Homo sapiens: one gene and its partners. The protein of the gene in region 2 interacts with the protein of the main gene of each other region in a pairwise test. Each region holds a gene or a part of one and is shown on either strand. Other genes may lie near its edges.

Region 1 (7,991 bases), on a different chromosome or scaffold from region 2:
CTCTCAGTACTCACACAGCTGCTACATCACATCCTGCTTAGCTCGCTGCAGGGCAGCCTCCAGCCAAGCCAGCTTGCCCTTGGTGCTGCCAGAGCCACCCTCCTCCTGCAGAGCTGGCGGGTCCTTGACTTCCTCTAGTTCACAGGGCGTAGGGAGCGAAGGGTAGACCAAGGACAGAAGGACATTATTGGCCCTCACTCCTTCCCCCTTAAGGATCCAGACCTTGCTCTGAGGCTGCAGAGCCAATGAGGGATTGGAGATTGTCCATGGTTGCAAGGAGTGAGCACACCTGTTCCAAAACTTGTGTTTGTTTGTCTGTATGGCAAGATGAAAAGAACCTGCCCACCTGTCTACCTTCAGGGTGAAGATTTGAAACCGGCTATCTAGGATGGCTGAGAGAGAGCCTTTTACGTCTAGTATGGAGAAACTCCTAATATGAGCCAGGATCCCAGAAGCATCCAATGCTCTTTGGCATGTAATGCTGTGGTTATTGTTTCCTAAGGAAAACTAGCAAGAAGAATATCCATTCCTCACGGGAACCTAGAGTTTATACTCTTCAGGAGGAAAAATAATAAGACCTTGGTGAAGTGTATTTGCTGCTTGGGGAACCAGAACAGCTGTGGCTGGTGGGACCCTGACCATGATGGCCCACCCACTCACTCTGCCCCCTCAGAACCTCAGCAGCTTATCCCTTCTCAGAGTCACCCATTCCTGTACAAGGGAGATCTCTCTCCATGAATACCCTTCCAAGCCTGAGACACTTGCATCTGCAGAAAGCAAGAAAAGACCGGGAACAGAAGCCCTTCCCTCCATGGAGTGAGACTTGAGCCAGCGGGGGTGTGAGAGGGCTGGGAGGTGGGTGGGTTAAGAGAGGAGGCTAAGAGAGAATGGGAGAAAGAAAACATCCTGGAGGACTAGCTCCTTTCTAAGGCTCACAAATGCAAGTGCTTGCAGAGGCCTAGCTGGAAGCATCAAAAGGTGAAGGCTAAATATACATCAGGAGTACCCAGTTCCACAAATACATCTGCCCTCTCCCATTTCCTGAAATCACCAGCACCTCTTTTATATTTTCAGACTTGCATTTCTCTGGCGACATTGACTCAGCACCTTTTCTCTTCTACAAGGATAATAACTTGCAGCCAGGACAGTGATAAATGGCAAGGGACCCTCTGCCTCACATCCAAAGGATGGGATTGGGAGTGGTGGGGACTGCGGCACACCAGGCAGCCTATACCGCATGTGAAGAAGAGAGAGATGATAGAGGCCTCTCTCCTCTAGCCAAATGTTGCCATTTGAGAATCATAATTTAACATTGCCAGATCTTCACATTTTGAAATAGAACCCAGAAAACTGGGTTTCTAGGTAATATCTTGCAATTTCTGAAGATGGGCTCAAATGTAATACTGAGCGAGAAAAACAAAACACAGACATAAAAATGAACATACACAAGTAAAAAGATAATAATGTACAAACAAGCATATATCTTCATACAGATTTACCTACATGTTCATTACTTACATAAAATACACAATGTCCTAGGCAGAGGTAAGCATGATATATGCATGCAGCTGCACTGCTGTATGCTTAGACATTCACTAAGAGAAAGTGTAGCCATCTAATCCAAAGGGTAGGTGGGGAGGGGCAGTTGTCATAAATAATGGTCACCATCCCACCATGGCCACTCTGTTGCCCCCCACTCCCACCTCTCACCTGACTCTCAGCACTGCCCACCTCCACCGTCAGCCACTGGATGGCCTGATTAAGCCTGTTCAGATCCTCCTTGCTGGGCTTCAGGCTCTGCGTGTGTTTCTGCACAGTTGCCTTTAATTCCTCACACTGTGGAGCAGACGGCAGAGGGGAGCTGTAGTCAGGAGGTGAGGAGGCCAGACAGGGCTGCCCATCCACCTGCTGTCACCAGTGGTCACCTAGCTTCTCTGGGCATCCCTTTCTCCATCTGTGAAATGGGAGTGATCATTTTTCCTATCTCCAAAGGTTGTTGAAAGAACACAGTGAGCTTGCCTTGTGCCCATGGGGCCAGAAGATGCCAAAGGAAGCCTGAACTCAGGCAGGAAGGGCAGCAACACAGGGCAGTGATCTGTTGAGGGGAGCTTTGGGACCAAGATCACATAGGGTTTATCCCAGGAACAGGGAGAGTTAAACTCTAGGAAACTGATTATTGTAGTTTACAACATCTAACCATTTAAATTAGTACAAAAAAAATTAATGAAATTCAATATTTCCTAATTTAAAAAACACATTTTAAAATCTAGGATTAGGAAGAAATGTCCTTAATTTGAATGCCATTAATCAGAAACCAGGGACAGTGATCTAGATTCCAGCTTCTTCCCCAAACCCAAGGCTGCTATGGGAAGTGCTGTCTATGAAATCAGGGGACCACTTCCCTTCTTGCACCTCGCCCCCATGTGCATTCAATACACGAATAGCCAGGGAACAATAACTCACACTTGCACAGTGCCTGATGCTTTTCACAAGCTTTTACTCCACGATCTCACTGGGGCCTCACAACCACCCATGAAGTTGGCCAGATGGATGTGACTTTTCCCATTGTCTTTCCTCAGGCAAACTGGGGCTCATTCCATCCACCACGTGCAAGAGGGGAGTGAGTGACCCTGCCAGCCGACAGTTGAGCCAGACTACATTTTAAGCCCATGCTCTTTGCTCTCCACCAAGGTTATACACACCCCCTCAACCCAGAGAGCAAGAACTGTTCACACCAGCCCATTGCAAACTTTCTTCTAGGGCAGATGGAGTGTGGGGGAACAGACCTCAAAACATCATCTCAATTTCTGCTGTGTTCCCACTGCCCCCAACTTTTCTGCTCCTGTTCCCAAAAGCTGTATGCCCAACAGATCTGGGTGAAGTCCAAGACACCTCATCCCTGTGTGACCAGGGAGCCACGTGTATGAGTCTCACCATGGAGAAAGAACTGTGGTCTCCTCCAAGCCTCTCTTGAGCACCAAAGCCCAGCTTCAGCCCAAGAGCTACCAGAATCCTTGCCACTGAGGACTAGGGCCTCTTCTTCCTGGGGGCTCTGTGACCTCATCTCATTACAATCACAGAGTTCTGCCCAGGAGGCCTCAGGGGCATAGGGTAGAAGAGGGCCATACTCTGACCCCAGGTGGGAAAATGGAAGTTTCTGGGCTGAAGTGGAACTTAAAGGAAAGTGGAGGAGGGGAAGGCTACCTCAGGTGGAGGAAATGTGTGGAGCTGAGGAGCTTAGGCTTATGGATGGGCACTGGGGAGCCACAGAGGGTGTCTGAGCAGGACAGTGGCCTGACATGAGATGTGATTGTCTAGAAGCAGTGCAGAAGATTGACAGGAGGGCAAGAAATTGGGACTGGGGATGCCAGTCCCAAGACTTGGTAGGAAATCTTGGGTAGGGCAATGACTTTAACCTGTAGGAATGAGTAGGGGCTAGAGAGCACAAGCTGTGGTCAGCATTTTCTTTTTGTTTTATAAATTTCTCATATATGCAAAAGAGTATGCAAAACCTACATTTATTGATTTCAATAGCAACAATAATAAAACAAATCCTTGTGTACCCACCAGTACCTTCAAAGCCCCCTGCGGGATTTTTGCTGATCCATCTCCAACCCCATCTGATCCCCAAAGTAACCACTGTCCTGAGTTTTTATATTGGTCATTCCCTTGCTTTTCTTTATTACTATGTCATAACGTGTATCCATAAACTAGTGTTGAGTTTTGCCTACCTTTAAGTTTTATATAAATAGAATTACACCTTGTACATTTCTATGACTTGCTTTTTCCTCCTCAACATACTAGTTTTGAGATTCATCTTTTTGATGCATGTAGTTTTATTTCTCAGTGTTGTATAGTATTCCAAAGTATGACTACATATATATAGATAGATACAGATATAGACACACACATATACATATATCTCTATTTTCCTATAGGTAGCACATGTGTTTTTTGTTTTTGTTGTAACAAACAATGCTGCCATGAACTTTCTTGTACATATCTGCTGGTGGACCTCAACAAGAGGTTCTTTGGGGTACTAGTTGTCAAACTGTTTTTTAACCTCAACTCTAAATAAGAAATATATGTTGTATCATGAATCACTACCTACGTACAAATACACCACATCTACTGAAATAAGTTTCATGGAAAAATCATTTACTTCTACTATGTGTAAGGCAATCTGATCTAACCAATCACCTTAACACATTCTTTTACTTTCAACTTATGTCCTCATGTTTTAAGTTTATTTCTTATAACTAGCATATTACTTTATTATTATAATATAATGAAAATGAAATACTCATGAACCTACTTACTGATCCCAAAACTAAAATCTTACTAGTAATTTACATTTAGCTCCATGCTCCTTCCCTACCCTGTCCTCTCCTAACCACCCCAGAGGTAACCACTTCCCTAAAGTTGATATAATTCCTTTGTTTTTTCTTAGCTTTATCAAATACATGCATATGCCTCAATATATATTTGTTTCAGTTTTTTTGTTCTTTTTTTATAAAAAGTGTGTCACACAGGGTCTTGTTTTATTCAACATTATGTTGCTAGTATTCCTCCATTATAATATTAATATTCCATTCTTATAGTATTCCATTGTGTAACTATACCACACTTTAGGTAATTCTATTACTGTTTTGTTTTGTTTCTTTCTCTTACAAAGGTGGTGCCATGAACATTTTTCTACATGTCCTCCGATGCACATATGTGAGGATTTGTATACAACTACAAACAGAACTTCTGACTCATAGGATGGTCAGAATCTTATAAAGGTGTTAACTTTATAAGATAATATAAAATTATTTTCCAAAGTTGTTATAACAATTCACACTTTGCTCAGCAATGTGAAAAAGATTCGTATCCTCTTTAATGTGTCTTAATTTTCAACAATTAAATAATGCAATCTCATTTTTGGTCTTGCTTTGTATTTTCATGATTACTGTTAAAGTTTAATATCTCTTTAAATGTCTATTACATGTGTATTTCCTTTTCTTTTGTCCATTTTTTTCTATTGGGTTTTTGCTGTATTCTAAAGGATTATAAGTGTTCTTTATATTTCTGAGTATTACTATTATATCACTTACATATATCACAAATATTATCAAGTTTACAGCTTATCTTTTCACTTTATCACCTATTTTGAAAAATAAAGTTGTTAGTTTTAATGTAATCTAATTTATCAATCTTTTATGTTGAGCATTTTATGTGACATGTTTAAAAATCCTTCTCTACACCAAGGTCAGAAAAATATTCTCCAATATTTTCTTCTAAAATTCTTAAAGTTTTGCTTTTGACATTTGTAATTTAAATTAATTTGAAACTGATTTTGTGTATAAGAGAAAACAGGGATCTAATTTTATTTTTTACATGTGGTTAACCAATGCATAGTCCTTTTCACTACTGATCTGCCATACCACTTCTATTTTACAACAAAATCATTTACTTATTTATAAATAAATTTAGGGGCTATTTTGTTCCATTGGTCAGTTTGTCTATTTTTGTGTGGGTACTATACTTTCTCAATTACTATAACTCTATAATACATTATAATCCCTGAAAGAGAGAGTACCTATTTCTTCCTTCTCATCATTCCTTAGCTGTTCTTGACCTTTGTTCTTCCCCATAAATTTTAGAATCAACTTGTCAAGAATTATGTAAATCTTCATTTGGAATTTGAGTGTAGTTGCGTCAACTCTGTAGATCACTGTAAGGATAATTAACATATTCATGATAGTAAAGCTTCCTATCTAAGAACATGGTATAGCTCTTCATTTAATTATGTCTTCTTTATCTTTTCTTTCCTATAACATTTTGTGTAACGCTTATATTTCTCTAGGTGTAAGTCTTTCACATATGTGTTAGATTTATTTCTAAGTATCTTATGCATTTTAAATCATTATTTTATCAACTTAATTGACATATAATTTGCATACAATTGTATCTCAATAAAGCGCACACATTCTAAAAGTACAGTTCAACAAATTTTGACAGATGTATGCTCCAATCTAATCACCACTGAATGAATCTAGTTCATTATTTTTTGTTGCTGAATGATATTTTATTGTATGACTATATCTCAATTTGTTTATCCATTCATCTGCTGGTACACATTTGGGTTGTTTCCAATTTAGGGCTATTATAAATAAAGCTTCTATAAAATTCATGTACAAGTCTCTGTATAGATCTGCTTTTATTTCTTTTGAGCAAATACCCAGGAGTGGAATTGCTGCATCATTTGATAAGTGCATGTTTAACTTCATAAGAAATTGCCAAACTGTTTTCCAAAGTTGCTCAATCATTTTACACTCCACAAAAGTTTCAGCTGATTCACACTTGGTATTGTCAGTCTATTAAATTTTAGCCTTCTAAAGGAGGCAAGAAGCAAGGAGGAAAAGAAGACCAGAGAAGGGAAGGGAAGAGCAAGACAGCAAGGGAAGCAGAAGGTTGAAAGATGGTTGGTGAGAGGCTATCCTCTTCGTGGGTTCAGTCAGGTCAGAATCCTCAAACAGAACATGCCCATGGGCTACGTGCCACTCCTCTCAATAGCCTTTCTCAGCTTGAGGGCAGCAGGGGCCAAGGAAGAGAGATTCCCACACAACAAGAAGTAAGAAGTGGGAAGCAGACAACGTGGATCAGGGTGGGTCAAGCAGTGGCGCCCTGCCACCAGGCTGCACAAGGTCAGGTAGGGCCAGCTGGGACCCTCGCAAGGGTGAGAGGCTGGGCTGGGTGCATCCTCAAGCTCTGCCAACTTAACACTTCCTGTAGCTGCTGCCACAGGCCCCATCCCACAGGAGCTGATGCCGCAGGTGCAGGTGGCCAAGAGGCCCCCACAGGCAACCCCACCAAGGAGCTGCTCACACCTGCACAGAGACAGCCATAAGAAGTTAAACCCTTTGGTCGGGGTGGGAGCTGGTCCCAAAAAGCCCCACCTCCAATCAGCACTGGCTTCCTACCAGCTGGGAGCAGCCAGGAGGATGGCTTCTTCTCACCTCCATCTCCAGGGGTGAAGATGGCATTGCTTCCCTGTAGTCTGTGCGAGGGACTGACACCCTGACTAGGAGGGACTCCATCTTGGGGTTTAATCTCAATCCCTTCTTTTTTTTGTGAGATGGAGTCTCACTCTGTCACCCAGGCTGGAGTGCAGTGGCACGATCTCGGCTCACTGCAACCTCCACCTCCCAGGTTCAAGCAATTCTTGTGCCCCAGCCTCCCAAGTAGCTGGGATTACAGGCACGCACCATCATGCCTGGCTAATTTTTTGTATTTTTAGTAGAGATGGGGTTTCACCATGTTGGCCAGGCTGGTCTCAAACTCCTGACCTCAAGTGATCCACCTGCCTCAGCCTCCCAAAGTGCTGGGAATACAGGTGTGAGCCACCACACCCAGCCTCAATCCCTTCTTTCTGTAAATATGAGCTCTTACTATATTGCCTGGGCTGGTCTCAAACTCCTAGGCTCAAGCAACCCACCTGCCTCGGTCTCCCAAAGTTCCAAAGGGATTACAAGGGTGAGCCACCGTACTCGGCTGAGACCCTGTCTCAAAAGAAAAAAAAAAAAATCAGGATGACCTTAGGATCCACAACATGTGGATTTGATTACAGCTCATTCAATCCACATGTATTTAAAGAAGATTAAATGCATGTTTTAATCCAGTAAAGTGACTGACATCTTGAACATGGACAAGTATGTTTGGACAGGGAGAGAATAAGAGCTTCCTACTGAAGGGGAGAAATTATAATTTTCCTCAACCCACATAAATTCGTAGTTGAGACAGACTCCTGCAACAACAGACAGATTAACAAGAGAAAAACAAGCAAGTTTACCAACAGGAGCAGTGCACGTCATGGAAGGAGAAAAGTAACAACCAGGGACTCTACATGAACAAACGGACTGGAGAATGAATGCTGAGATCCAGGAAGGGCACACACAGGCTCTGTGGCTTATGTAGTCATTCATCGATACTCATGGGGGACTGGTTCC
Region 2 (7,025 bases):
TCATTGTCCTGGGTAGTTGGGACTACAGGTGTGTGCCACCATGACTGGCTGATTTTTTTCTTTCTTTCTTTTTTTTTTTTTTTTTTGTAGAGATCGAGACTCACTATGTTGCCCAGGCTGATCTTGAACTCCTGGATTCAAGTGATCCTCCCATCTCGGCTTCCCAAATTGCTGGGATTATAGGCATAAGCCACCACACCTGGTCCACTGCTTGATTTTTAGTCATAAAATTAATCTTGCATTCGAGAGATAAACCCCACTTGGTCATGATGCATTATCCTTTTCCCATATTATTGATTTTGATTTGCTCATGTAATGTTAAGGATTTTGCTTTTGTGTTCATGAGGGATTGTTTTCTAGTTCTTTTTTGGCAATATTTTTGTCTAATTTTTTTATCAAGACAATACTGTCCTCATAAAGTGAGTTGGGAAGAGTTCTCTCCTTTCTAATTTTTGAGACAGTTTATGTAAAACTGCTATTATTATTTCTCTGAAAATGTCTGGTAGAATTCACCTGTAAGGTCATCTGCTTCACAGATGGTGTTTTCTTTTTATGCATGATTTTTTGAAATTCACTTTTAAATTTACATAGAGTAAAAATTACTCTTTTTGTTTACAGTTCTATGCATTCTATCAAATGCTTGTACGCAAGTTACCATGACTACAATCAAGATGCAGAACAGTTCTTTCCCTTCCCTTGGCCCAAAGTAAATTCTTTCATGCAGTACCCCTTTGTAGTCAAACTTTATCTCCACATGTAACTCCTGGCAACAAGTGATCTGCTCCCTATCGTTTTTATTTAGCCTTTTCCAGAATATCATATAAGTGGAATCACAGAGTATGTAATCTTTCGAGTATAGCTTCTTTCACTTTGTAAAATGTTCTTGAGTTTTTTGTTTTTTGTTTATGTTTTTGTTTTCTTTTAGACGGAGTCTCACTCTGTTGCCCAGGCTTAAGTGCAGTGGCACGATCTTGGTTCACTGCAACCTCTACCTCCCAGGTTCAAGGGATCCTCCTGCCTCAGCCATTCAAATAGCTGGGACTACAGGCACCCACCACCATGCCTGGGTAATCTTTGTATTTTTAGTAGAGACGTGGTTTCGCCACGTTGGCCAAGCTGGTCTCAAAATTCTGACCTCAAGTAATCAGCCCACCTCGGCCTCCCAAAGTGCTGAGATTACAGGTGTGAGCCACTGCACCCGGCCTGTTCTTGAGATTTTTATCTATTTTGTTGTGTGTACCAATTGTCACTTTTTATTACTGAGCAGCATTCCATTATGTGGATGTACTACAGTTTGCTTTTCCACTCACATTTGAGAGACCTTTGGGTTGTTTCAAGGTTTTTGGCGATTGTAAATAGTCTTTGATAATTTGGGGGTGGTAACTTTTCCTTTGAAAATTTTGGCCAGATTTTCCTGTTTCTGATATGTTGAGTAATTTGGGATTTTAAGATGGACAATTTGACTATTATGCTGTTCATGCCTGTAATCCCAGCCTTGGGAAGCCAAGGTGGGAGAATCACTTGAGGTCAGGAGTTTGAGACCAGCCTGGCCGACATGGTGAAACCCCGTCTTTATAAAAATTGGCCAGGTGTGGTGGCATGCGCCAGTATTCCCAGCTACTTGGGAACCTGAGGCGGGAGAATCGCTTGAACCTGGGAGGCAGAGGTTGCAGTGAGCCGAGATTGCGCCATTGCACTCCAGCCTGGATGACAGAGTGAGACTCCGTTTAAAAAAAAAAAAAGGGCCGGGCGCGGTGGCTCACGCCTGTAATCCCAGCACTTTGGGAGGCCCAGACGGGCGGATCACGAGGTCAGGAGATCGAGACCATCCTGGCTAACACGGTGAAACCCCGTCTCTACTAAAAATACAAAAATTAGCCGGGCATGGTGGCGCGCGCCTGTAGTCCCAGCTACACGGGAGGCTGAGGCAGGAGAATGGCGTGAACCTGGGAGGCGGAGCTTGCAGTGAGTCGAGATCGCGCCACTGCACTCCAGCCTGGGCGACAGAGCGAAACTCCGTCTCAAAAAAAAAAAAAAAAAAAGAAAGAAAGGATATTATGCTGGCTATGAAGCTCTGGGTCCTGTTAAAATCTTCTAAAGATACTGATTTTTGTTTGTTTTAGTAAGTAATCAATCTGGTTAGGCTCAGATCACAAGTTCTGTCATGCCTTCAGGGACAGTAATTCCAATATTTAGTTTTCAAAGCCTTTGCTATGCTCTTTGGGTCTGTACATTACATGCAACGCTTGCGAGTTGTTCTGAGACCTTTGTGGTATTTTTATCATAGTTCATTTCTCAAAGCCTTAACTATGCTTTCTTGAGTAGTCCTCCCCTTATCTGCATGGGATGCGTTTATAAGACCTCCAGTGGATGCCTCAAACTGTGGATAGTACCCTATATATCCTATACAGGCACTGTGGCTATAACTTTTGCAGTTTGAGATGTGACAGCAAAACTAGTACAAAATTGTCTTCTCCACAATTTCACAAATAGAAGATTTGTTCTTATCATAGATTTTAGCAACCTCAGCATATGATTTTTTTATTTCCTTATTAAGTCAAAAACTTTCACCTTTTCACTTAAAGGAAGCACTTTATGGCTCCTCTTTGGTATATCCAAGTAGTCAGCATCACTACTCTTGTACTTTGGGGCCCTTATGAAGTAAAATAGGGTTAGTTGAATGCAAGCACTGAGATACATCAACAGTTGATCTGATAACTGAGATGCCTATGAAATGACTAGTGGGCAGGTGTCTGATTTAACAGTGACTTCAAAGCAGATATTATAAATATGTTTGAAGAATGAAAGGAAACCATATTTAAAGAATTAAAGAAGAGTATGATGTAATTCATCAGAGAATATCAATAAGTAGAAATTTTTAGGAAACCAAATTGAAATTCCTAAGTAGAAAATTATAATAATTGAAAAATTCGCTGGGGGGGTTCAATGGTAGATTTGAACAAGGAGAAAATCAGTGAACTTGAAGACAGATCAGTAGAGATTACAGTAGTATCTCCTTATTCATGGGGGATATGTTCCAAGATCCCCAGTGGATGACTGAAACCAGGATTGGTACCAAACTCTATATACACTATGAATTAATTTATTTTTCATTCTTCACAATTTCACAGGCAGAAGATTCATTCTAACCTTAGATCTTAGCAATCTCAGCATATAGTTTTTTTCTTTCCTTATTAAATTGAGAATGTTTCACTTTTTCACTCACAGGAAATACTTTATGGCTTCTCTTTGGTATGTCCTAATTGCTGGCATTACTACTCTTGTGCTTTGGAGCCATTATTAAGTAAAATAAGGGTTACTTGAATACGAGCACTGAGATATCACAACAGCAAATCTGATAACCAAAACAGCTAAGCTACTGAGTGACAATTGGGTGGGTAGGGTAGACAGTGTGGATATGCTGCACAAAGGATGGAGTGAGACAGTGCAAGATTTCATCATGTTCTCAGAACTGTGTGCAATTTAAAATTTACAAGTTATTTCCAGAATTTTCCATTTAATATTTTCAGACTGCAGTTCATCATGGGAAACTGAAACCTCAGAAAGCAAAGCCAAAGATAAGAGGGGCCTACTGTACTCCATGTTTGTGCAGGAGTAGGGCTGACCCTGTTACTTACGTAGTTTCAAACATAGAATTAGGATCACCTTCTCTAGTTCTCTTCTACATGGGATTTCGGCTACACTTTACAGTTTTTGTGGGCCCCTTTTGTTATGGCCAAAAGGATCAGGCTGTCTTAAAGATTTTGCCTTATGCTGCCATTCACTTCTAAGTACTTGGGGCTGCCCTCGAGGTAAAATATCAAGAAAAAGAGAGAAAGAGTATCGGGATTCCCCCACACACTCTCTTTCCAGTTCCTCTATTCAGAGAGACAGTGTTCTCTTTTATTCTTAGGAAACCTCACAGCCTGGCAGTGGCAGTGCAAATCTATGTTTGGAGCTGGCTTTGTGGCAGGGCCAGCAGACCAAAACGGAAAGAAAAAAATCGGGATTTCCCTACAATTTCTGTGTGGCAGGAGCCCCTTTTCTTCTACACAGTTCTCAATTCAGCCTGCTTTTAAGTGAAAGCCAGAAGATAAAGGAGGAAAAAAGAAACAAGGAAACTGAAACTTATTGGTATGTCTTATTTCTTAAACTGGGTGTTAGGCATAAAGATGTTCTTTTTACTATTATTCTTTAGACTTTATTCATACTTTATTCTTTTGTATGAATGAATTACTTTGCACAGAAGGAAATGAAGCAAAAATAAAAGGAAATAAAAATCGAAAACCTGGCCCATGACCATGGAAATTGGTCGAGTTCTGACTGAAGCAAATCCAAAATTGTTCTACAGGGAACAAGAAAAATTTTATTGTAATCTAGAATGTAAAGGATTTTCAGAAAAGAGAACTCCCGCTGAAGATGAGCTATAAATAAAAATTTATAAGCCATGACAAGAAATAAACCACCATGAAACAGAGTTTGTTTATGTAGCAAAAGAGAAACAGCAACCTCATAACAGAACAGACTAGAATAATTTTGCATCAGTATGTTTAAAATAATTAAAAAGGCAAGAGAAGGTAAAGAAACCACAGTAAAATAAACGGAGCAGTTTAAAATAAGAGAAAATAGATTTTTTAAAGAACCAAATAAATATTCTAGAAATGATAATATAGTCATTGGGATGAAAAATTCAATGCAGATATTAAACAATGGATTAGCAAAGATTGGGAAGGAATTAATGAATTAGAACATAGATTTGAGGAAATCATCCAGAATGAAATACGAAAAGATGAAGAGGCATAAATCATATAAACACAGTTAAGGGATATGGATGACAGAATGAGAAATTAAAATACATGTCTAAATGAGAGCTCCAAAAGTAAAGAATAGAAAGAGCAAGGAAACGCTGAAGGTTTATAAATTGGAGACTTTAGACAAAGAAAGCGTATTGACTTCTGAGCAGGACAAATAAAACTAAACCATATTAACAATATTCTAACAATCTTCCATAAAATAAAAGAGGCAACATTTGCCCTTCTAATTTTACCCTAATATCAAAACCAGAAAAAGACATGAAAGAATACTTTGGACCAATATCCTTCATGAAAATAAAATGTAAAAATCCTCACAAATTTAGCAAGTTGAATCTAGCAATTTATAGAAAAGATAATGATGGCAGTGGCTGGTGCCATCACGCTGGCTGCAGTAGGGAGGAAAGGCTGAGACTGCAGACCCAGGCCTCCCACTCCATGGGGCAGTCAGGAGCCCCACCCTCCTGGACGGTGCTACAGCCGCCCAAACTGCAGCTGTAGATCTGAGCCTCCCTGCGCTCTTGAAGTGGGGCTGGGAACAGGCAGGATCTGCCCTCTTGGGTGCAGCTGCAGCCGCCTGACCAGCAGCTGCTGACCTGGGCCTCCCACAACATGGAGCAGGCAGGAGCTGGGGAATCCCGCCCCTGCTGAGTTGGCCTGCGGGAGCTCCCTGGGTGCAGCTGCCACTGCCCTCTCACCCACGGGACCCAGGCATCTCTGCAGCCTGTACCCTCTGGTGCCCCGGAAGGCCCCCCATCCCTGCAGGCTTGGGGTGTCTGCTCCCGCTGCCTGACCTCTCTCCTCTCCTGGAGCTGGCTCAGATCTTGGAGTGGGGTTGGGGTTGAGCCCTGGGGCCATGAATGGCAGCGGGAGGCAGACAGATTCTTGGGTGGAAGGGGGCAGGTCCCCAGTAAGGCTCTACCTTCAGTCCAGGGAGGGCCTGAAGGCTGGGGGCCAACTGCTGGTCCTGCATACCAGTTTGGGGACTCATGGGGCCTCTTCCAGCAGCCCATGGCTGCCCATGGACCAATCAGCATGCACTTCCTCCCCTCTGAGGTCCATAAAAGCCCTGGGCTCAGCCAGAGCAGGGCAGACGATGGCCAAAGGACGAAGAGGATAGACAGACTACACAAGGACCAGCTGCAGAAAGGAGCTACCGTCTCTGCCGAGAGCTTCAGAGACAACCTGCCAGCAGACAGGAGGCACCCTCTCCAGGGCCTCCTCTCCACTGAGAGCTGCAGACATTGGGACAACCAGTAGTAGAGAGGAGCTACCCTCTCCAGGGCCACCTCTCTAATGAGAACTGAATGCTGGACAGATGATCTTCCTACAGAGAGGAGCTACCCACTGTGGGTCTCCTCTGAGCTCTTGTAACACTTAATAAAGCTCATCTTCGTCTCGTTCACCCTTCACTTGTCTGCGTACCTCATTCTTCCTGGATGCAGGACAAGAATTCGGGCAAAGGTGCTGTGGCCACAGAGGTTTCTGGCCAGGAAATTGACAACCCAAAACTCCCTGACAATAACATGATGAAATGTAGCTTATTGAGGGAATGAAACACTTGAAAATCAATCACTGTAATACACATATCAATAAATCAGAAGAAAAACAATATGATCATCTTCATAGATACAGAAAAAGCATTTGACAAAATGCAACATTCACTTATGATAAAAAGTCTAAGCAAATTAGAAAGTAAACTTCCTTAACTTGCTAAAGGGCATCTTTAAAAATCTACTGCTAACTTCCTAATTGTTGTTGAAATTTCCCTCATAAATAGGAAATAAATCAAGGATTTTTGCTTTTGCCACTCCAACTCAATATTGTAGTGGCGGTCTTAGCCAGTGCAATAACACTAGGAAAGAAAAGCCATACAGATGAGAAAGGAAGAAATAAAACTGTCTATTTGCAGTTTCACATAGAGATTTCAAATAGAATTAGTACCTATATATATTCATTAAATACTTCTCAATGTTGATAGTTATTAGTTAAGATTGTTGAGTTTATTAATATTTCATAAGAATAATAGAAGTCATAAGATATATCTCTTTTTAAATAGTTTATAATTCAGAAAGTTAAATTCTTATGGCTTTTCTCTTAAGCTAAATTGCTGAATTCTTTGTTTTGGTTACCTTTTCTTCTGAAAACTCTCTTATGACCTCTGCTGTCCATTTATTGAACATAAATCATTAAATAAAATATTCGTTGACATTT
Region 3 (7,025 bases), on a different chromosome or scaffold from region 2:
ACAAACACCTAGCAATTAAATTATAACCAAAAACAAGTATGGGATTTATAGTTAAAACTGTTAATAATTGGTTTTTCAAGATATAAAAATAGCATGCCCTCAGCCTGGCATGGTGGCTCACACCTGTAATCCCAGCACTTTGGGGGGCTGAGGTGGGTAGATCACCTGAGGTCAGGAGTTCAAGACCAGCCTGGCCAATGTGGTAAAACCCCATCTCTACTAAAAATACAAAAATTAGCCAGGCATGATGGCACGTGCCTGTAATCCCAGCTACTCGGGAGGCTGAAGCACAAGAATCGCATGAACCTGGGAGGCAGAGGTTGCAGTGAGCCAAGATCGTGCCACTGCACTCCAGCCTGAGCAACAGAGAGAGACTCCATCTCAAAAAATAATAATAATAATAATAATAATATCATATCCTCAAATAAGTTTAAACTGATAAAAACAGATTAAAGCTTTTCTGATATTAATGAATAGTGTAGTTGTCTATTGCTACCTATATTAGTCTGTTTTCACACTGCTGATGAAAACATACCCAAGACTAGGCAATTTGCAAAAGAAAGAGGTTTAATAGACTCACAGTTCCACATGGATCGAGAGGCCTCACAATCATCATGGAAGGTAAAAGGCACATTTCACATGGTGGTGGCAGGAGAGAATGAAAGCCAAGCGAAAGGGTTCTATAAAACCATCAGAACTCACCTGGACTTATTCACTACCAGGAGAACAGTATGGGGGAACTGCCCCCATGATTCAAGTATCTCCCACTGGGTCCCTTCCACCACATGAGGGAATTACGGGAGCTACAATTCAAGATGAGATTTGAGTGGGAATACAGCCAAACCATATCATTCCGCCCCTGGTTCCTCCCAAATCTCATGTCCTAACATTTCAAAACCAATCATGTCTTCCCAACAATCCCCCAAAGTCTTAACTCATTTCAGCATTAACTCAAAAGTCCACAGCCCTAAGTCTCATCCAAGACAAGGCAAGTCTTTTCCACCTGTGAGCCTGCAAAATCAAAAGCAAGTTAGTTCCTAGATACAATGGGGGTACAGGCATTGGGTAAATACAGCCATTCCAAATGGGAGAAATTGGCCAAAATGAAGGGGCCATAGGCCCAATGCAAGTCCAAAATCCAGCAGGACAGTCAAATCTTAAGGCTCCAAAATTATCTCCTTTGACTCCATGTCTCACATGCAGGTCACACTGATGCAAGAGGTGGGTTCCTACATCTTGGGCAGCTCTGCCCCTGTGGCTTTGCAGGGTACAGCCTCCCTCCCAGCTGCTTTCACGTATCAGTGTTGAGTGTCTGAGGCTTTTCCAGGAGCATGGTGCAAGCTGTCAGTGGATCTACCATTCTGGGGTCTGGAGGATGGTGGCCCCCTTCTCACAGTTCCACTAGGCAGTGCTCCAGTAGGGACTTTGTGTGGGGGATCCAATCCCACATTTCCCTTATGCACTGCCCTACCAGAAGTTCTCCATGAGGGCCCCATCCCTGTAGCAAACTTCTGCCTGGATATCCAGGCATTTCCATATATCCTCTTAAATCTAGGCGAAGATTTGCAAACCCCAGTTCTTGACTTCGGTGCACTCACAGGCTCAACATCACATGGAAGCTTCCAAGGCTTCGGGCCTGCGCACTCTGAAGCCATGGCCTGAGCTCTACATTGGCCCCTTTCAGCCAAGGCTGGCGTGTCTGGGACACAGGGTACCAAGTCCTTGGACATAGCATGGGGACCCTAAGCTTGGTCCATGAAACCATTTTTTCCTCCTAGGCCTTTGGGCCTATGATGGGAGGGGCTGCCATGAAGACCTCTGACATACCCTGGGGACATTTTCCCCATTGTCTTGGGGATGAACATTTGGCTCCTTGTTACTTAGGCAAATTTCTGCAGCTGGCTTGAATTTCTCCTCAGAAAATGGGTTTTTCTTTTCAATTGCAGGGTCAGGCTGCAAATTTTCTGAACTTTTATGCTCTGCTTCCCTTATAAAACCGAATGTGTTTCAGGCACATGTATGTTTATATGGTACTATTCACAACAGCAAAGACTTGGAATCAACCCAAATGTCCAACAATGACAGACTGGATTAAGACAATGTGGCACATTTACACCATGGAATACTATGCAGCCATAAAAAAGCATGAGATCATGTCCTTTGCAGGGACATGGATGAAGCTGGAAACCATCATTCTGAGCAAACTATCACAAGGACAGAAAACCAAACACCGCAAGTTCTCACTCATAGGTGGGAACTGAACAATGAGATCACTTGGACACAGGGTAGGCAACATCACACACCAGGGCCTGTTGGGGGATGGGGAGCTGGCGGGGGACAGCATTTGGAGAAACACCCAATGTAAATGATGAGTTGATGGATGCAGCAAACCAACATGGCACATGTATATACCTATGTATCAAACCTGCACTTTGTGTACATGTACCCTAGAACTTAAGGTATTAAAAAAAAAAAACTGAATGTGTTTTAACAGCAGCCATGTCACCTCTTGAAAGCTTTGTTGCTTAAAAATTTCTTCCACTGGCTGGGTGCAGTGGCTTATACCTGTAATCCCTGCACTTTGGGAGGCCGAGGTGGGTGGATCACCTGAGGTCAGGAGTTCCAGACCAGCCTGGCCAACATGATGAAATCCTGTCTCTACTAAAAATACAAAAAATTAGCTGGGCGTGGTAGTGCATGCCTGTAATCCCAGCTACTCAGGAGGCTGAAGCAGGAGAATCACTTGAACCCAGAGGTGGAGGTTGCAGTGAACTGAGATCGTGTCACTGCACCCCAGCCTGGACAATAAAAGCAAAACTCCGTCTCAAAAAAAAAAACAAAAAACTTATTCCATCAGATATCTTAAATCATCTCTCTCAAGTTCAAAGTTCGACAAATCTCTGGGGCAGGAGCAAAATGCCGCCAGTCTCTTTGCTTTTGCTACAGTTCTCAACAAGTTCCTCATTTCTATCTGAGACCACCTCAGCCTAGATTTTATTGTCCATATCACTATCAGCATTTTGGGCAAAGCCATTCAATAAGTCTCCAGGAAGTTCCAAACTTTCCCACATTTTCCTGTCTTCTTCTGAGCCCTCCAAACTATTCCAGCCTCTGCTTGTTACCCAGTTTCAAAGTCACTTCCACATTTTCAGGTATCTTTTCAGCAGCACCCCACTCTACTGTATTAGTCCATTTACTGTGTTAGTCTGTTTACTGTGTTAGTCCGTTTTCACGCTGCTAATAAAGACATACTTGAGACCAGGCAATTTACAAAAGAAAGAGGTTTAATGGGCTCGCAGTTCCACGTGGCTTGGGAGGCCTCACAATCATCGTGAAAGGTGAAAGGCACATCTCACATGGCGGCAGCAAAAAAGAATGAAAGCCAAGCAAAAGGGGTTTCCCCTTATAAAACCATCACATCTCATGGACTTATTCACTACCATGAGAACGGTATGAGAGAAACCACCCATGATTCAATTATCTCCCACTGGATCCCTCCCACAACATGAAGGAATTATGGCAGCTACAATTCAAGATGAGATTTGCGTGGGGACACAGGCAAACTATATCACTACTTAACACATTAAACCCAAATTCAACAGCTTAAAACAATACACATTTGCAATCTCACTACTTAACACATTAAACCCAAATTCAACAGCTTAAAACAATACACATTTGCAATCTCACAGTTGCTAAAAATCAGAAATTGAGTGTTGCTTGGCTAAGTCCTCCAGCCCAGGGTCTCTCAAAAGGCTGGAATCGAAGTGTCAGCCAGGGGTGCAGTCATCTCAATGTTCAACAGGGAGAGGATCTGCTTCCAAACTCTCTCGGTGGTCGTTGGCAGGATTAATATCCCTGAGGGGGCTGGGCGCAGTGGCTCACGTCTGTAATCCCAGCACTTTGAGAGGCCAAGGTGGGCGGACCACGTGGTCAGGAGATCAAGACCATCCTGGCTAACGTGGTGAAACCCTGTCGCTACTAAAAATATAAAAAATTAGCTGGGCGTGGTGGCATGTGCCTGCAGTCCCAGCTACTTGGGAGGCTGAGGCAGGAGAATTGCTTGAACCCGGGAGGCGGAGGTTGCAGTGAGCCAAGATCGCACCACTGCTTTCCAGCCTGGGCGGCAGAGTGAGACTTCATCTCAAATAAATAAATAAACAAATGCCTGAGGTTTTTTAGACTGAGAACCTCAGTTCCTTACTGGCTGGAGGTCCCCTTCAGTTCCTTGACAGGTGGGCCTTTTCACAGGTCAGTTCACAACATGACAGCTGACTTCCTCAAGGTGAGTGAGCAACAGAGTGCCAGCAAAAAGGGAAGTCATAGATTTTGTAATCTAATCTGAGAAGTGACATCACACCATTTTTGCCATATTCTAGTAGAAGTGAGCCTCTAGGTCTAGTTCACCCTCAAGAGGAAGGAACTACACAAGAGTGAATACCAAGGTCATTTTAGAAGGCTCCCTATCACAGGTAGTATAATGGAAAAAGCAACTGGAATAAAAACCAGAACAAAAATAGGTTCTAGTAACTATGTGACTAAACTGAGAAGGTAGCCTAAATGACCCCTACGGTCTCTTGGCAGTCTTTTGAAAAAGATTACCAGAGATTAGAGATACTTCATCAAAAGGCCTCATTTCACAAAAGAAAGCTGAGTTCCAGGAAAAGTTAAAACAAACAGGTAGTGAGCCACACTTATTTTGCTCTTATGCCCAGTGCTCTTTCCACTATAGTAAACTGTTTTTGTAATTAATGCTCTAAAACAGTTCTATCTTCTCTTTATGATAGTCTCAAAATCTAATAAATTCAATAGAGAGAATAATAATACAATGCTGACAAAAGCAGCTACAATTGATTAATCTTGTGCATTATCTCTTTTTCTCTCATCAACCCTAAAGCCATCTCTAGATGGTACGTGAAGTTGCAAGTGGAAGTGAGTCATCTGCCCATCCCCAGTCCCAGGTAGCTGGACGTACTAGTAATAAGATTTGCTGGAAATAAATTATAAAAGCAACAAATAAGCAATAGACAAATACATTCACCTTGAACACACAGTCACCCTAAATATGGTAAACAAGATTAAATGTAACCTAAATAAAGTATCTAAAAACTGCAACCAGAAAAGGCAAGGTTTGTTAGTAATGAAATCCTGGAAAATTGTCCCAGAAGTCAACAATGGCAATGTAGTGCAGGCAATATGCAGGGGAGAAGGTACGGTCAGAAGCTAATGACTACAATTGGACTCACAAATACATCCTTACTAATATGAAAGCATCACCTAAGGATGATCGTACAAATTAAATATTTGTGCCACATAAATTCCCTATTTGCTCCCTTATGAAGTCTGAAGCCCTGGAGGGAGGGGACTCCCTTGTCTGAGAATCCCTCCTACTGGCACATGCCCTTTATTACCCATAATAATTTGTAGTGACTCCAAGCTGATTCAAGGAGTGCCATGAAAAACACGCATATGAACACAATTGCTTTGTGTGGGACTTATAAAGCAGGAAGGTATTTACATTAGTCATTGTGTGTGTGTTTGTGTGTGTGTGTGTGTGTGTGTAATGAAATGCAGTATGTACTGGATCCAGAATTTCTATATGAGAAAAGCTTACTTAACTGCAATGAATTGATAGTGGAAGGTGAGGCCCCTCTTAAATCTATCTGCATAACAATCAAGTAAGACTAAAAAAAACAATTATACATATCAAAGAAGGATCACACTGATGAAATTACCCTCACACCCTTCATTAGTATTAGCATATATCTAAATGTGCACTAAATTCACTTCTATAAATTACTTAAAAACAAGAAATGGGCTGGTGCAGTGGCTAATGCCTGTAATCCTGGCACTTTGGGAGGTCGAGGCAGGAGGACCTGAGGCCAGGGGTTGGATACTAGACCGGACAACAAAGGTAGACTCTGTCTCAACAAAAACAGAAAACAAAATAGCTAGGTGTGATGTTGAGCACCTGCAGTCCTATCTACTTGGGAGGTTGCAGCAGGGAAGACAGCTTGACCCCAGGTCAAGGTTACAGTGAGCTATGATTGCACCACTGTACTCCAGCCTGAGTGACAGAGCAAGATCCTGTTTCTAAAAGCAACAACAAGAACAACAACAAATACCTAGAAAGTGTTAGCTAAAAATGTTAACATGGATGGTGGGCTGAATGGTATTAAAGTAAAATTTTGGGCAATACTGAGCAAAAGGCAGGGGGCCAAGAGTAAAAGATGAACTGGGCAGCCCAAAGAGACATTTAAGGAAGAAAGGGCCTCCATCCTGGGAAGAGGTGTCACAGTTGAGCTTCACGGCCCAAGTCAATGGCTATTACGTCCTATATCATGAGTGTACTCAATCACTAGATAAAAATGTCAGAAAACCCAAGATGGAACAGCTCAAAGGACAAAATGCACCTTAAAATATTACAATAACTATATTATATATTTTTACATATTTTTACTCAAAATATCCAGAACTGTCTAGACATTCATCCTTTTCTTTCCTAGCCTTTTAAATAATATCAAAGAAAGACTGTCTCTTCTTTCTTTTCTCACTTCTTACCTGTCTTTTGTTCTTCAGATTTACAGGGTGAGAAGAAAGTGGGAGAAGTAAAAACAATTCAGACAAGAATCAAACTGGCCTCTAATTAGTCTTAAGGTAAAACTGGTAAACCAAATAAAGTATGTTTAGAGATCTGAAATCCAACACCAAAACACTATAACACATGCTGCTTTACAATACTGGCCAGGTGTGGTGGCTTGTGCCTGTAATCCCAGCATTTAGGGAGGCTGGGGAAGGAGGATCACTTGAGCTCAGGAGTTTAAAACCAGCCTGGGCAACATGGCAAAACCCCATCTCCACAAAAAAATATTAAAATTAGCCTGGGCATGTTGGTGTGTGCCTGTAACCCTAGCTACTTGGGAAGCCGAGGTGAGAGGATCACTTCAGCCCAGGAGGCAGAGGCTGCAGTGAACCGAGATCACCCCACTGCACTCCAGCCTGGGTGACAGAGGTACACCTTGTCT
Region 4 (7,006 bases), on a different chromosome or scaffold from region 2:
ATTCTACAAAAAAGAGTTATCCTCTAATTTTTATTGCACCTGAACTTTACATAAACACACATCCCACTTTTATTTGCCAATACAGATCAATTCAATCTGTCATCATTTAAACCACTAATGGATGATGTATAAGTCAAACAAAAGGGACAAGCATGAAAGTAGACTGCTTCTCTAACACCTGAACATTTTCCTTTTAATATACAAGCATTCTTGCACACAGTTCATAAAACTGCTAGGCTGCTGATTCAGTGTTCTGTTTAACAGATGAGTTTTAACTACTTAAAAAAAAAACAAACTCTGCTTTCTACAACTATCTGATCTTCGACAAACCTGACAAAAACAAGCAATGGGGAAAGGATTTCCTATTTAATAAATTGTGCTGGGAAAACTGGCTAGCCATATGCAGTAAACAGAAACTGGACTCCTTCCTTACACCTTATGCAAAAATTAACTCAAGATGGATTAAAGACTTAAATGTAAAACCCAAAACCATAAAAAACCTAAAAGAAAACCTAGGCAATACTATTCAGGACATAGGCATGGGCAAAGTCTTCATGACTAAACACCAAAAGCAATGGCAACAAAAGCCAAAACTGACAAATGGGATCTAACCTAAGAGCTTCTCCACAGCAAAAGAAACTCTTCAGAGTGAACAGGCAACCTACAGAACGGGGTAAAATTTTTGCAATCTACCCTTCTGACAAAGGTCTAATATCCAGAATATAGAAGGAACTTAAACAAATTTACAAGAAAAAAACAACCCCATCAAAAAGTGGCCAAAGGAAATGAACAGACACTTCTCAAAAGAAGACATTTATGCAGCCAACAACATATATTAAAAAAAAAGCTCATCATCACTGGTCATTAGAGAAATGCAAATCAAAACCACAATGAGATACCATCTCACATCAGTTAGAATGGTAATTATTAAAAAGCAAGGAAACAACAGATGCTGGAGAGGCTGTGGAGGAATAGGAACGCTTTTACACTGTTGGTGGGAGTGTAAATTAGTTCAACCATTGTGGAAGACAGTGTGGCGATTCCTCAAGGATCTAGAACCAGAAATAACATTTGACCCGGTGATCCCATTACTGGGTATATACCCAAAGGACTATAAATCATTCTACTATAAAGACACATAAACGTGTATGTTTATTGCAGCACTATTTACAATAGCAAAGACTTGGAACCAACCCAAATGCCCATCACGGATAGACTGAATAAAGAAAATGTGGTACAGATACACCATGGAATACTACGTAGCCATAAAAAAGAATGAGTTCATGTCCTTTGCAGGGACATGCATAAAGTGGGAAGCCATCATTCTCAGCAAACTAACACAAGAACAGAAAACCAAACACCGCATGTTCTCACTCATAAGTGGGAGTTGACAATGAGAACACATGGACACAGGGAGGGGAACATCACACACCTCACACATCGGGACCTGTCGGGGCGGGTGGGGGGCAAGAGGAGGGAGAGCATTAGGACAAATACCTAATGTATGTGGGGCTTAAAATCTAGATGACGGGTTGATAGGTGCAGCAAACCATCATGGCACATGTATACCCATGTAACAAACCAGAACGTTCTGCACATGTATCCCAGAACTTAAAGTAAAATAAAATTAAAAAACAAAAACAAAACAAAACAAAAACTTGGCCGGGTGCAGTGGCTCACGCCTGTAATCCCAGAACTTTGGGAGGCCGAGGCAGCTGGATCACCTGAAGGTCAGAAGTTCGAGACCAGCCTGGCCAACATGGTGAAACCCCCATCTCCACTAAAAACACAAAAAATTAGCTGGGCGTGTAATCCCAGCTACTCGGGAGGCTGAGGCAGGAGAATCGCTTGAATCCGGGAGGCAGAGGTTGCAGTGAGCCGAGATGGCGCCATTGCACTCCAGCCTGGGCAACAAGAGTGAAACTTCGTTTCAAAAACAGCAACAACAACAAGAACAACAACAAGAAGAACAAAAACTCTGCTTTTAAAAGTATTTTAAGTCCAGTGTGAAAAACCTAGAAGTCACAGCAAAGGCCGCTAAGAAACTTACCATTACTCATGACCCCTCTTACTACTGACCTTGAAAATCACTTGCCCTTCTCCAAGGCCCCGCCAGCTTCATGGGTCTCTTCCTGAACCTCCTCCCTAGTTCCAGGGCTTGGCCTAAGTCTCACAGAGCAGAAAGAAACGTGGCCACCCTTCCTCACGTGAGTCCTGTGCAAACATACAGCCCCACACAGAGCTCCTAACAATGGGGCATCAGTACCCAGGCACGATCGATGATTATGAACCCAACGCGATCAGAGACTCCCACATGGTGTGTGTGACTGCGCGCACAGGCGGGAGGAAAGGGGCGAATCTGCAAAACGAGTACAACAGATAAAATTCGCAACAGACTTCTACACCCTTTCAATCAACCGTCCCAAGCGCCACGAACGCGGGTCCCGCTCCGTGGGGGGCCGCAGCCACACTGGCAGGAGGGAATCCTGGGCCTCGACCAGACGCCGGCGGCGTCAGGAGAAACGGCCCGCGCTGGGCAGGCGGCGGGCACCGCGTAGCTCATTACCACGGGGGGCCCCGGCCAAGGCCGCCCGCCTCAGGCCGAGCCTTGGGGCTGTGCTGGACCCGGGCCCTCGTTCGCACGGCGCCCGCGCCGCCGCCGTCGGGAAACCGGGTTTTCAAGCGTTCGGCCCAGCGGGCGCTGTATTTTAGGGCGTGACCCCCGCCCCGCCCTCGAGGGCGACCGGAAGAGCAGGCACCACAGCAGATGCGCCGAGTCTGCGCCCCGCACCGCGAGGAGCACCCGAGGCCGCGCTCCCGGAGCCGGGTCTGGTGACTAAGGCGCGGGTCGCGACGCAGGGGCGGCCCCGGACTCTCGACCCCACCAGCCGCCTGAATGTCCCGCCGGACGCCCGGGCCGGCTCACCTGGGAGGCGCCTCCGCCGTCCGCCCGCGCGGGGCCAGGAGCGCGGCACCACCCCCGTACCGCCGGCCGCTCTTTGTGTCTGGAGGCCGCGACGCAACACTCCTCCCGGCCTCGAGGCACCGCCCCCTCGGTGTCCCGGCGCAGTGGGCGAACAGGGGGCGGGGCGAGCGAACGGGAGAGGGGGCGGGTCGGGTCCGGGATTGCGGGGCGGGGTGGGGGCAAGGCGGCCTCCGCAAATCTCAGGGCGGCTCTGGCCAGTTTGGAGCCTGGGGTGACCCTTGGAGCTGACCTCGCTGGTCCCTGTCGGAGCCCTGCGCGCTGCGGAGCTTGGCGGTTCGCAGCTCTCGGGGTAGCATCTTCTGGAAACAAGCCCGGAGGCCGGCCAGGCAGGGGTAATACCCCAAACCCACCACTGAGGAAACCGCGACTTAAAACCTAGGTCGTCACGTTTCCACCGCATATTAAATCAATACGGGTTGAGCATCCCTAATCCAAACATCTGAAATCCGAAATGCTTCAAAATCTGAAAGTTTTTGAGCGCTGACCTGATGCTCAAAGGAAATGCACATTGGAGCACTTCTTTTTTCTTCTTTTAACTTTCTTTTCTTTTGAGAAAGGCTGTCACTTCTGCTGCCCAGCCTGGGATGCAGTGGCGCGGTCATGGCTCACTACAGCCTCGACTTTCCCGGCTATGGCGATCCTCCCGCCTCAGCGTCCCAACCCCCAGTAGCTGGGACTGCAGGCATCTGCCACCATGTCCGCTAATTTTTGTATTTTTAGCACAGAGTCTCACTGTGTTGCCCAGGCTGGTCTCGAACTCCTAGGCTCAAGGGATGGATCCACCGCCTCGGCCTCCCAAAGTGCTGGGATTACAGGCGTGAGCCACCGCGCCCGGCCTGTATTTTTTTAAGAGAGGAGGCTTCACCATGTTGCCCAGGCTGGTCTGGAATTTCTGGCCTCAAGTGATCCTCCCACCTTGGCCTCCCATAGTGCTGGGATTACTGGCATGAGCCACCGCACCTGGCCTCATTGGAGCATTTCTAATTTTGGATTTTCAGATTAGGGGTGTTCAATTGGTATAATGCAAATATTCCAAAATCTGAAATCCTAAATGCTTCTGGTGCCAAGCATCTCGGTTAAGGGATATTCAACCTGTATATATTTATCGAACACCTACTAGGGCCAGGCATTGTCCTAGGGGCTGCCAACAGCGGTGCAAAAAATCCCTGGCCCTTATAGAGTTTACACAGAAAACAATTTAAAAACGTAAATACCCGGCCGGGCATAGTGGCTCATGCCTGTCATCCCAGCACTTTGGGGGGCTGAGGCAGGCGGATCACCTGAGGTCGGGAGTTCAAGACCAGCCTGACCAACATGGAGAAACCCCGTCTCTACTAAAAATACAAAATTAGCCGGGCGTGATGGCATATGCCTGTAATCCCAGCTACTCAGGAGGCTGAGACAGGAGAATCGCTTGAATCTGGGAGGCGGAGGTTGTGGTTATCAAGCCACTGCACTCCAGCTTGGGCGACAGAGTGAGACTCCATTTCAAAAAAAGAAAAAAAAAAGTAAATACAGCCAGGCACGGTGACTCATGCCTGTAATCCCAGTAGTTTGGGAGGCCACTGTGGGCAGATTGCCTGAGGACAGGAGTTCGAGACCAGCGTGGCCAACATGGTGAAACCCAGTGTCTACTGAAACACAAAAAAATTAGCCAGTTGTGGTTAACGCGCGCCTGTAGTCCCAGCTACTCGTGAGGCTGAGGCACAAGAATTGCATGAACCCAGGAGTCGGAGGTTGCAGTGAGCTGAGATCTTGCCACTAGACTCCAGCTTGGGCGACAGAGCAAGACTCTGTCTCCAAAAAATAAAAATAAAAACATAAATATACAAAAATGTCAGAGAGTTATATCAGAATTACAAAATGAGCTACAGTACACTGTAGCATGAGAAAGGTGCATATACTTTGTAGGAACTCCACTTTAGAGGATGTGAGGATCAGAGGCAAAATGGGGTGAGAAGGAAGCAGGATGAAAGACAGGCTATGGGGGAACGGAGTTTCCAAGGGCGAGTGAAATTTCCAAGTGCCTGCAAGTGCTAAACCCCATGCAGAGCAAAAGGCAAACACAGGGAGTGGTTCAGAGACGCTCATAGTGTGTTCTAGGCTGGGAGGTTTCTCTGACCTGCTGAATGTGCCCAGATACCTTTTGCTATGCCCATGACCTGTCCCAACCAGTGTGGGGCACAATGGCAGGACACACCGTGCAAAGGTGGTCCCTGTGGGATGCGCAGCCAAGACCCCGATGACTCCAGTTTATAACCCTGGATTCCCAGGGGTGCTCAGAGCCATGGGGGCTGCCATTGTGAAGAATGTCTTCTCTTCAGTGCTCCTGATGCTCTGCACGGGCTCCCACTCACTGGCTGGAGAATGAATTTGGAGTCAGAAGATGTGAATCATGCCACTTACTAGCTGTTTGACTGTGGATCACCCAGTCATGTAACATCTGTGATCTCAGTTTCATTTGCAAAATAGAAATGTAAAAATTACCCATTGCACAGGAGTGTACTGAATTTATTTGTTATTTTATTTCTTGAGACAGGATCTCAGTCTGTTACCCAGGCTGGAGTGTGGTGGTGTGATCACAGCTCACTGCAGCCTTGATCTCCTGGGCTCAAGTGATCCTCCCACCTCAGCCTCCCAAATAGCTGCATTACAGATGCACCCCCACACCTGGCTAACTTACTAATTTTTTGTAGAGATGGGGTCTATGTTGCCCAGGCTGGTCTTGAACTCCTGGGCTAAAATGATCCTCCCACTTTGGCCCCCCAAAGTACTGAGATTGCAGGCATGAGGCACCGTGCCCAGTTGAGCATACCGAATTTAAATGAGTTAATGTAGTGGTTCTTCATCAGAGAGAAGTGGGAAGACTAGGAGTTCTCCACTTTGACTACTTAAAAATTAAAAACACCAGTGCCTGCATCCTACCTCCAGACATTCCAATTTTATTGTCGTGTAGAGAAAACTCTCCACTCTCACACCGCACAACAGTCAACACAGAAGACCTATGACTAAATGTGTGTGGGGTTTTCTCCACACACTGAGCAGCAGACACCAGCTGGGCATCCTCTAATTCAGTTCTGTCACTACCTGGAGAGAGTGTCAGATCCCACAAGTTGAGGACTCAGTCCCCAAGACTCCTCACATACATCAGTTGCAAGGCCGGGCCTCTGCAGAACTTCTGACAGATCAGCTTCAAGTTGGGGTTCCCATGACCCCCTGACCCCCTGTTTGGTTTCGATTAATTTGCTACCTGTGAGTGGCTCACAGAACTCAGAGAAACGCTTATGTTCACTGGTTTATTTTTATTTATTTATTTTTGAGACGGAGTGTTGCTCTGTCGCCCAGGCTAGAGTGCAGTGGTGCGATCCCAGCTCACTGCAACCTCCGCCTACCAGGTTCAAGTGATTGTCATGCCTCAGCCTCCCAAGAAGCTGGCACTACAGGCATGCGCCACCACACCTGGCTAGATTTTTATATTTTTAGTAGAGACAGGGTTTCGTCCTGTTGGCCAAGCTGGTCTCGAACTCCTGACCGCAGGTGATCTGCCTGCTTTGGCCTCCCAAAGTGCTGGGATTACAGGCGTGAGCCACCATGCCTGGCCCACTGGTTTATTATAATGGATATTGTAAAGGACACAGGTGAAGAGACACATAGGGCAAGGTTTGGAGGAAGGGGCAGAGCTTCCATACCTCCCTGGGCACCACCCTCCAGGAACCTCCACTGTTCACCTACCCAGAAGTTCACTGAACCCTGTCCTCTTGGGGTTTTATGAAAGCTTCATGATATCAGCATTCCTTCTCCCAGGGAATAGGGTGAGACCCTCTCATGGGAGAGTCTTAAGACCTGCAATCGACGGCAGGGCGCGGTGGCTCACTCCTGTAATCCCAGCACTTTGGGAGGCCGAGGTGGGCGGATCACAAGGTCAGGAGATCGAGACCATCCTGGCCAACATGATGAAACACCATATTTACTAAAAATACAAAAATTAGCTGGGCGTGGTGGCACACACTTATAGTCCCA

What was found.
Region 1: the proteins of CCDC146 (region 2) and KRT86 interact in binary tests that used the Homo sapiens proteins (3 or more experiments, as listed by UniProt).
Region 3: the proteins of CCDC146 (region 2) and MIPOL1 interact in binary tests that used the Homo sapiens proteins (3 or more experiments, as listed by UniProt).
Region 4: the proteins of CCDC146 (region 2) and NINL interact in binary tests that used the Homo sapiens proteins (3 or more experiments, as listed by UniProt).

The regions. Positions count from the first base shown.
Region 1 is NC_000012.12:52,269,666-52,277,656, reverse strand, and holds the start of KRT86 (keratin, type II cuticular Hb6), read right to left. Parts: upstream 3,013-7,991; 5' UTR 2,938-3,012; coding exon of another isoform or gene 2,935-2,937; exon of another isoform or gene 2,580-2,934; intron 1,837-2,579; coding exon of another isoform or gene 1,711-1,836; intron 1-1,710.
Region 2 is NC_000007.14:77,125,615-77,132,639, reverse strand, and holds part of CCDC146 (coiled-coil domain-containing protein 146), read right to left. Parts: intron 6,135-7,025; exon of another isoform or gene 5,868-6,134; intron 4,135-5,867; exon of another isoform or gene 3,914-4,134; intron 1-3,913. UniProt on the Homo sapiens protein: Essential for sperm flagellum biogenesis and male fertility.
Region 3 is NC_000014.9:37,200,922-37,207,946, reverse strand, and holds part of MIPOL1 (mirror-image polydactyly gene 1 protein), read right to left. Parts: intron 1-7,025.
Region 4 is NC_000020.11:25,582,529-25,589,534, forward strand, and holds the start of NINL (ninein-like protein), read right to left. Parts: upstream 3,004-7,006; 5' UTR 2,927-3,003; exon of another isoform or gene 2,123-2,926; coding exon of another isoform or gene 2,080-2,122; exon of another isoform or gene 2,061-2,079; coding exon of another isoform or gene 2,051-2,060; intron 1-2,050. UniProt on the Homo sapiens protein: Involved in the microtubule organization in interphase cells. Overexpression induces the fragmentation of the Golgi, and causes lysosomes to disperse toward the cell periphery; it also interferes with mitotic spindle assembly.